Homo sapiens: one gene and its partner. The protein of the gene in region 1 interacts with the protein of each later gene in a biochemical or structural test. Each region holds a gene or a part of one and is shown on either strand. Other genes may lie near its edges.

Region 1 (6,070 bases):
TAAAATTAAATTAAATTAAAAACAAAGACCCAAATCAAAACAAAATTTAAAAAAAAGCCAACCAACCAAATAAACAAAGAAAAAGACTGCAATTAAACTAATCAAGTTTCACTAGTAGGGAAAAGAAAAATTATTAAAGATATTGGGTCTTTTTATTTTCTTGCGGATTAAATTAACTTCCCCTAGGGCTGTGCAAGCTCTGAACTAACATATAGGAGGTTTTTGTTAAACTCAGAGAGGTGTAATTATATTTCCATAGTGTGATGGTGAATTTTAGGTATCAGTCTGACTGGATTAACCAACACCTAGGGAACTAGTGAAGCATTGTTTGTGGGTGAGTCTGTGAAGGTGTTTCTAGAGGAGAGAGACATGTGAGCTGGTGAGCTGAGTGGGAGCCTCATCTCTCAATGTGTGTGGGCACCATCCAATCAGCTGACACCTCAGATATAAAGAAAAAGGCAGAAAAAAGGCAACTTCCTCCGTCTCTCTCCTGAAACTTGTTCTGAACCTTTCAGACTTGAGCTTAGCCAGGATACCGGTATTCTCAGGACACCAGCTTAGAGACAGCCTATATTGGAACTCTCTAGACTCCATAATCAAGCAAATTAATTTTCCTGATGAATTCTGTCCCATGTAGAATCATGTATAGCTTGTGGACAGATGTATGTTCTGAGAAATGTGTCAGGTGTTTTTAGTTTTTTTTTGTTTTTTTTTTTTGAGACAGAGTATCCTTCTGTCACGCAGGCTGAAATGCAGTGGCGTGATCTCGGCTCACTGTAACCTCCGCCTCCAGGTTCAGAGCGATTCTCCTGCATCAGGTTCCCAAGTACCTGGGATTACAGGAACGTGACACTAGGCCTGGCTAATTTTTGTATTTTTTTAGTAGAGATGGGGTTTTGCCATCTTGGCCAGGCTGCACTTGAACTTCTGGCCTCAAGTGATCTGCCTGCCTTGGCTTTGCAAAGTGCTGGGATTCTAGGCACGCGCCACAGTGCCCAGCCCGGCGGTTTCATTGTTTTAATATGATAGAATATACCACACAAATCTAGATGGTATAGCCTACTACACCTATGGTATACACTATAGCCTATTGTTCCTACAATAGGCTACAAACCTGTACAGTATGTTCTGTACTGCATACTGTAGGCAACTGTAACACAATGATAACTATTTGTGTATCTAAACATAATTGAATACAGAAAAGGTACAGTAAACATATTGGTATTATAATCTTATGGGACCCCCATATGTGGTTTGTGGCTGACTCAAATGGCCCATGAATGTATCTGCACACATATATGTATACATCCTATGGTTCTGTCTGGAGAACCCTGACTAATATAAAAACTATAATCTTTGTTTTGGCAATTTTAAATCCTTTAGCATAAAGCAGCATAAAGCTGCTAGTTTTATATCACTTCTGAATTTAAGTGAAAGCAGTGAAAAATCTTAGAATTGCAAATATTTTCCAGAACTCATCTAAGACATTTTAAGAAATTTTTCACAGTTTAATAAGATTGAGACTCAAGTGAGATGACAATCACAATCACATACCATATTAGGTCTTATAAATTTACTTGTTCGAAAAATTGTGTTTTGATTTCTAAAGTAGGATATTTTGGGGAGCTTTCTCATTGTTTTAGTTTCACTATTTTGCATCGCTCATCATTACCTTACTAATTTAAAGTCATGTCTAAAACCTGAATGTTATGAAAGCAAATAACTTCATCATTCATTAATGTCTTCTCAATTCAATTTGACAATATTAATACACTCATTACATACATATACACACACACCTATGTGTACATATATGTATCAACTCCATATATTCATTATGAATACATATCTGTTGCAGCAAACACTAGATATTTTAAGTTTTTCAGAACTATATTAAACAATCATAGAAAGCACAAAATAACAACAATTAGTATCCTTATAATTCATAAAATCTATAGTAAGAACATGAGTTACAAATGGTATCATTGTGTAGATTTCAGATAATGAGATATTTTTAACACTCTAATTTATTATTGTGTAAAGGAAAGATGATATAATTTTATCAATATGTTTCACTCACCCTGGAGTTCTTTTAATGGTTCCCACAACGATTTTTCCAAAAATAATTTTGTTAAGTTCACCTCAAGATCAGAAGCTCATTCACTGCAGTACTGAATTTCAGAGGTCGCCAAAATGCAGTTCTAAGTGCAGTCCTTCTCCTTCAGAGAAAACTGAGCTTGTCTCTTCCGTGTCCTTTTATAAGAACCTGTGAAGACCACACCCACCTCTTTATGGGTATTTAGAGCATTCAGAAAGGTGGAGACAAAGATGATTAGGTTTATGCAGTATTTAGAACACACCTTTGCAGCTCTGATTAAATTATCATCACACTTTCATTCTGAACACCAGTGCCTGAATGAATCATATGTAACATAAATCCTGTCAGAGCATACATAGGCTAGAAATTAACTAAGATGCATTTTATACTGTTTATTGAGTTTCTTCCATGATACAGGCATTCCTCTAAGTGCACATTTATTTATTCTAGAGAAAGGGTCTCCTTCTGGAGTGCAGTAGCATAATCATAGCTCCCTGCAGCCTTGAATTCCAAGTAATCCTCCTGCTTCAGCCTTCCAAGTAGCTACGACTTTAGGCTCACACTATATCACCTGGCTAATTTTTTTTGTTGAAATTTTTGGTAAAGTCAGTGTATGACTCTGTAGCCCATGCTGTTCTCCAACTCCTGGCTTCAAGTGGTCCTCTGGTCTCGGCCTTCCAAAGTGCTAAGAGTACAGGTATAAACCACCTCATCCAGCTTAAATGCTGCTTTAGTACATTTATAGGATATTTCCAGAGAAGTCCAATGGAAGATAAAACTTTCCTTTTTGTTTTCTGTTTTCTACCACTCTAAGAGAAATCACTGATTAACCAAATAAACCCACTAACCTGGGGTCTCTCATTGAATTTACAAAACTTCACCAGTCTCATGGGTGAAAGATGAGTTATGATTTTAACGTTTTTCTCCATATAGTGCATGATGTCCTACAATGACTAGGAGTGCACCACGGGAATTATTTTGGGGATTACACATAACTTTTAGCATATAGGCAAATTCACAAATACAGAATCCAAATGATAGAGATGGACTATATTTTTCTTTCTATGCCAAGTCTTTTTGTTGTTATATGAAAATTATTTTTTTTAAAAAAGAGATTTCAGAAGGGACTACTCAAATATCTTCTGATAGAGGAATTCTTTGCCAATGGTCCAGAAGACTTATGGTCAAGACTGTCAAAACAGTGAAGACAAATCTATCAGACCCAGGTCTGTCCAGGTTCAAAGACAAAAGCAGAACCCATAAGATATATGTATAGTTAGGGAGATTCACATATGAATTAAGTGCAAAGACTTGACTTACCCAATTGTGGGAGCTGCTTAAGCAAATGTGAGATCCTGGGTACAGTCCATCAGGAAAAGAAATCCCCCGCTGGCTGGATCCCAGTGGTCATGAATCAAAGCTTTGGTTTAAAGTCAATAGGGGGCAACTGGAAGATTAGAGTCCCATTTGCCATTTAAAATGTTGTTCAAGGAATGCCTATGTGTTTCTTTAAAGGACTTTCACTGATGAAGTCAGGCTTACTTGGGTACACTTCCTAGTTACAGGATTAGGACCTTTGCTCGCATCTGCAAAATGCCTTTCCAGCAGGTCCTAAGTAAGTGTTTCATTGAAGAATAATAAGGTATGTCTATGCCACAAAATGGCTACTGCCCTCATTTCCCTCTTTGTACATACATGTACTCAAGTTGACACATCATAAAATCATCCAGAGTTTATATTTAATTAAATACAAGGAATTGAACAATAGATTTTCTTGTTCTATTGTCAGTTTACTATCCAAGACCACCAACTGACTGACCACCCTGTATGCACATTCTGTACCTCAATAAATCTAAGTAATTAACCAAAGTGTCCACACAGAAGTAAGATCTGCGCTGGTTGTGTGTGGGGGCCCTCTTGGCTCAGTCCTGGACTCCAGAGTGGGAAACTTGTGAAACCCTGGGTCATGGACTTGATCCTGTGGACATTCTCTGCTTAAATTCTGGAGCTCCGTGGCGGGGCCCTGGTACTCCATTACAAGGTCTGATGATGCTGTGTATCAGGAAGGAATTAGGGCAAGGAGAGAAAGGAAGGTAGGTAGCTTCTGATTTTATTTCAACCACTTTTTGCACCACATCATTCACTTATTCAAACACTCAGCTTTAGGCAGTTGAAGCCTAGAGCACTGGAAATTAGGAGCTTTCAATTACAGACCTACCTCTGTCTACTGTGGCATTATCAAGGAAACAACCTATTTTCCTACTTGAGTCTCAGACCATGAAACAAATATAAGAAAGTAATTCTCTTTAGAGTTGGCATTTTGTAGGTTCCAAAAGTCCTACCCAATCCAGAAGAGAGAGTAGAGGTGGGTATAGGCAAGAACAATCCGTGATGTGGATAAAGGACACTCCAGCCAATTTGGAATATTTCCTTATTTCCCAGTGCTTCTCCTTTTAATAAAAAAGATACTTTTTTGTACATGAGACTGTTTCCATTCTAGCATCTGAAACCTACCTCTACCACAAAGTTTTCTGTTGAATTACACATCTATTTTTGAGAATCTGGTAATAGACTCTTTTGTTCATCTGGGTTCTAAAACTCATTGGAAAATCTTTGTATGAAAGTTGGTGATCTATTTCTCGTTCCTTAACATATGTAGAAATCTGACTTTATTTAATTCTGGAAATTTTTAAATTTTTATAAAAATGCCATTCTATGATAAATACCATTTAAAACCTAGGTATTATAACTACTTTGACATTTTGTTTGTTTTATTTGCGCACATGGAGAGAATTCTGCATATTTTTTCCCATGCTAACAAAATTTATTAATTTTCCACAAATTTATATTTTGCTTTGTGGATCCTGAATGTCCAGGGCTATCTTTTCTTTAACGCTTTTTTTTTTTTTGGCATTTCTTCTCAATTGTTTTACCCGTTTATTGTCTATTTTTCTACAAACCCCAGTCATTTTCTCTTGAAACCTCTTATCTATTTGAGTGGAGAGAAATATGTTAGAAAAAGGAAGGGGACAATGTGATACATGGGCTATGATGTACCAGTTACTGTGCTGTCTCCATGCACACATTGTTCCTAATCTCCACAGAAAACATGCAATATGTGTAGCATTGTCCCAACTTTACATATGAGCACATAAAAGGTAAGCTTTTCGTTGTTGTTGTTGAGTCCGAGTCTCACTCTGTCGCCCAGGCTGGAGTGCAGTGGCGGCGTGATCTTGGCTCACTGCAAGTTCCACCTGCCGGGTTCACTCCATTCTCCTGCCTCAGCCTCCCGAGTAGCTGGGACTACAGGCGCCCGCCACCATGCCCGGCTAATTTTTTTGTACTTTTAGTAGAGACGGGATTACACTGTGTTAGCCAGGATGGTCTCAATCTCCTGACCTCGTGATCCGCCCGCCTCAGCCTCCCAAAGTGCTGGGATTACAGACGTGAGCCACCGCGCCCGGTCGTAAGCAATCTTTTTATGGTCCTGTTTCCTGTATGGGATGGATTCAGGGATCAATTACATGTCGTCAACTCCATAAATCCTCAAATCTCTCAACGTATTTTCTCACTTAGAGCCACAGAAACACATATGATTCCTTCTGTGCTTGTGTGTTCAGGTGAGGTTCAGCCTACATTCTGAAGTTTCTTCCTCTGATGAATGAAACATTGAGTTCTTGAATATAGCTACATTATCATTAGGCTGTAAAAATCAGAATCAAATAGGTTTCCTTCCTTGAGAAAATAATGGAGGCAACAGTTACAAACAGCACTCTAGGTTTTAGATTTCAATCATGTTTTTCCTTTTCTATTCTTTTTTCTTTTCTTAGAGACAGGGTCTCACTCTGTCATCCAGACTATAGAGCAGTTGCTGGATCATAGCTACTGCAGCTTCAACCTCCTAGGCTCAAGTGATCCTCAACCTCGGCCTCCTGAGTAGCTCTGACTACAGGCAGACACCCGCACTTCAGG
Region 2 (3,796 bases), on another chromosome or scaffold:
AGAGGTGCCTGAAAGGAACTGGGGAGTGTGCCACTCCTGGCCATGTTCTCAGCCTGCTGAGCCTGGTCCCCTGGGCAGGGAGAAGATAAACTGGTTAGGCACCTTAGGAGAGGTGATAAAAACTCTCACTTCAAGTGCTTTGGGGTTTTAGAGTGATTCCTCATGAGAAATATACATTATCAATATATAATAGTAGCAATAACTTACTTTGAATGGTTTCCCACTTTCAAATGGGAAAACCGACTGTCTTTCTTCCCTTCCCCAGTTATTATCCAGCTTTGTATTGCAAACAATGACTCTCCTGTTGTTCTCATTGAAGCGTGGGTTAAAGTGGAAGGCAACATCATTCCCTCTTTGGAAATCTAAAGCAATTCTGTTTTAAACCAAAGACCAGTTATTAAAATGATTAAAGCTGTACATTTGCACTGTGTAAAGAACATGTAATTTTCTAAAAAGCAAATAATTTCATAATACAGTACCTAGGAAATTTTTCTGAATGGAAAGCAAATAAATCAGAATGGGTTCAAACTGGAAAATATCCTATGCCTGATATTCTATGTACTATCACAAAATCTAAAGGTAAGCAAGACAATAGATGTTGAATTTTTTGCCTCATTGTCTTCGATCATATTTCCATTCATCTGTAATGCCCCTACAGACTCATGAAAACCCTTCGAGGTTTTCTTACAGAGGTTTAGAGCCACTCTGAGGACACTTTATCCCTTACTATAGATAATGGTTATCTCTTTCCTGCTCTTCCAGTTTGCTTTCAATACCTGGTAAAGGCAAGCCAGCTATATAGTTAACAGCCATCAAATACCTGGCTTCCTCATAATTAACCAGAAGCCCTAGTTCCTCTAAAACAGCAAGAATGAGATAAGGTAGTTAATATTCAGTATCTTGTTGCTAAGTTGTAAAGTCATGATAGTAAATGTGGTAAACATTCTATGATGTGAGCCAGAACCAATGAAATTGCTAGTTTAGCTTTTTGACCCTGTTCCTTCTCCCTGGAGGTTAATGCAAACACAAGTCCTCTTTGACTAACCCCATCCCTGAGTTTCTCAAAGTGCGCTCTATAGAGCGGTAACACCAGAGTCATCAGTAGGTATTCGTATTTTAATCTGCACTCTAGACCAACTAACAAAGATTGTCTGTGTATTTTGATTCACCCAGTAACAGTCACATTCAACCACAAATGATCTTCCAGTGATTAAATTTGTAAGGAAAAAACAGCATAGAATTTGTATTTGACTAAATATACAATGTTGTCATCTCTGTCACCTTAAGCACTTTTTTTTTCTACACAGTTCGTCATATAGAATTTGCAGGACTAAGCAACAGTTTTTTTTAAGTTTACTACCATTAACCATTTCAACCAGAATTAGTTTTGATCTGCCAGTCTCAATCTACATCTCTAGCATTATTAGAACTAAACTTTCCAGTGAAATGACTCTAACAAGACAAGGATACCAAACTGGGTATTCAGTGTGCGTTAGGGGTTGTGGGAGGAGGAGAGCAGATATTTAATAAATCATGAGTGCTGTGTGCACAGGATAAGGTGTGCTGGGTTCTATGTGATGTTGGGAGGAAATACGGATAAGGACATAGGTAGAGGATGTATATATTTTGTAATTTGCTATGAGACGGGCATTATTGTACGGGGAAGTTCTGTGCTTACAGAAATTGTCTAGGCTGTGTGGAAAGATGGGTTGGCTTAGGATAGTGACTACCATTGCAGAAGCAGAGGAGGCTGGCTGAGGTGGAGGGAATGAGCATTTGAATGTGAAATTATCAGATCAGAAGTGAAGTCCATCTCTTGATTGCAGGATGTGGAGCAAGGTGACAGACACTGAGACTGTTTATGGATTCTTGCATAAACCTGTGTACATGGCTTGAATTTGTGCCATTTAGGTACTGTCCATAAGACCTAGAGACAGTTCCACTAACCTTAGGGGCAGGCATCTCAGATGGTTTCAGGACATGGCCAGCTTCCTTGTATGATATGTAAGTACTACATAACCAGTGGTGACAACCAGGGCCAAGCAGCCCAGGACAGCCATAATTAGCATGTATTTTCCTAAATAAAGCCTCACCCCATCCTAGCCCACCTCATCAATCAAACTACTTCCAATAGTAAAGGTTGATTTATAATGATGAAGTTTTTAACTTGTAGAATCTCTTCAAACCCATAAGCAAATAGTATCTGCTCAAAAGACGGGTTCCCAGGCCTGCCACTGATCATCTGTAGAACCTGAACCTCAGTTTTGTCTATAAAAAGGGGAGAGCAATATTCCTTATCCTGCCTTCAGCCATGAAGATTAGCTGACATAATACATATCAAAGTATAGAATAAGGTGTGTTACCGTTTACTATGAGTGCCATGATGCTTAGCAAAATTATATGGGAATATGTATGGATTTATGGGATAATCCTATATGATGGTATAGCCAAGATTCTAAATATGTAGTTTTTAAAATTTTACTAAAATTCAAAATAGCACTGTAAGACAGGGCAAGAAGAAAAAAAGTAGGCCATTCTTTATTCAAAAACCAATCTACAAATAGAGTAGACTTGTTAATTTTGCTCTCCTTACCTGTTTGCATTGGGCTTCACCGTGCCCAGAATTGTTATCAGCATGCGAGGCACCACTCCCCCAGGCAAAGGCAGGTTATAAGGCACAATCTGGGAATTAACAAGTACATATGTGTCAATAAGGAGTCATGTTTCTTTGGGGAAAAAACGATGTTGCTAAAGTTCCATCACTATTAATATGTGTGAAAAACACATAACTCTAGTATATGCCATCTGTCCAGACTCTCAGGCCACTTTGCCCAGGGGCCAAAGAGATAAGGCTCCCTAGATGTACAAATAATTGAAAAGAAAGCCATCAGTAAATCTCATTACTACGGCCATCCCAATTTGTACTCATTCATGTTGACTATTTTTGGAAAGGCTTAAGCTAGATCTTGTGATCAACATTAACATTTTTGTATCACTCTTAAGGCCCTGTCATGGTACATGCTTTACTGTGGATATTCTGCTTCCTGGGGGCAAGCAGCATATCACATTCTGGGCTTGTGGGTTCTCATATGCTTTGTACTCACATGGCTCCAGCAGAGTGCTTTGCATATGGCAGATACTCAATATTTATGGAATGAACACTGTTAACACTGTGAGGTTCATTCCACAAATGTTTATTGACCAACTACATTCAAGGTACTGTGAATATCCCCAAAGCTCTATTTATTTATGGCCTCTTTTCTTTCCCTTTTTAAGACTTCCCCCTGGGTTTAACTATCACCCAAACCTTTTTATTTTTTGAGACAAGGTCTCAAAAATCCGAGTCTCAGTTGTTGAGGATGGAGTGCAGTGGTGTGATCATAGCTCACTGCAGCCTCAACCTCTTGGACTCAAGTGATCCTCCTGCCTCAGCCTCCCACAGTGGTGGGATTACAGGCATGAGCCACCACACCCAGCCTATCCAAATATTTTCTTTCTAGTCCTGGTGTGTACTAGTCCTGTACTTCCTCCCACCTAGATTTGCTGCTAGTGCCTCAAATTCAACAAGTGTGAACTAGAATGGTCTTCCCTACCCCCTCCCCCATCAGTTCCCCTTCATGAGTTCCCAGTTTGGGCTAAAGCTTTGCTGATGGCTCTAGTTGCTCAGCCTTGAAAAGTCAGAGTCCTCTATGACTCCTAAGACATAATCAGTAGATTCTGGGGGTTCTTCCTCTGTAATCTCTCTTACATCTGCCTGTTCCTTTCCACAGCCTTCATGTCTCCCTCTCTCTGCAAC

What was found. The genes of interacting proteins can lie anywhere in the genome.
Region 2: the proteins of TRIM49 (region 1) and LGALS3 form a complex in vitro, tested with the Homo sapiens proteins (one study listed by BioGRID).

Annotation. Positions count from the first base shown.
Region 1 is NC_000011.10:89,805,019-89,811,088, forward strand, and holds the start of TRIM49 (tripartite motif-containing protein 49), read right to left. Parts: upstream 3,558-6,070; 5' UTR 3,419-3,557; intron 2,267-3,418; 5' UTR 2,081-2,266; intron 1-2,080.
Region 2 is NC_000014.9:55,139,161-55,142,956, reverse strand, and holds part of LGALS3 (galectin-3), read right to left. Parts: intron 2,683-3,796; coding exon 2,594-2,682; intron 374-2,593; coding exon 208-373; intron 1-207. UniProt on the Homo sapiens protein: Galactose-specific lectin which binds IgE. May mediate with the alpha-3, beta-1 integrin the stimulation by CSPG4 of endothelial cells migration.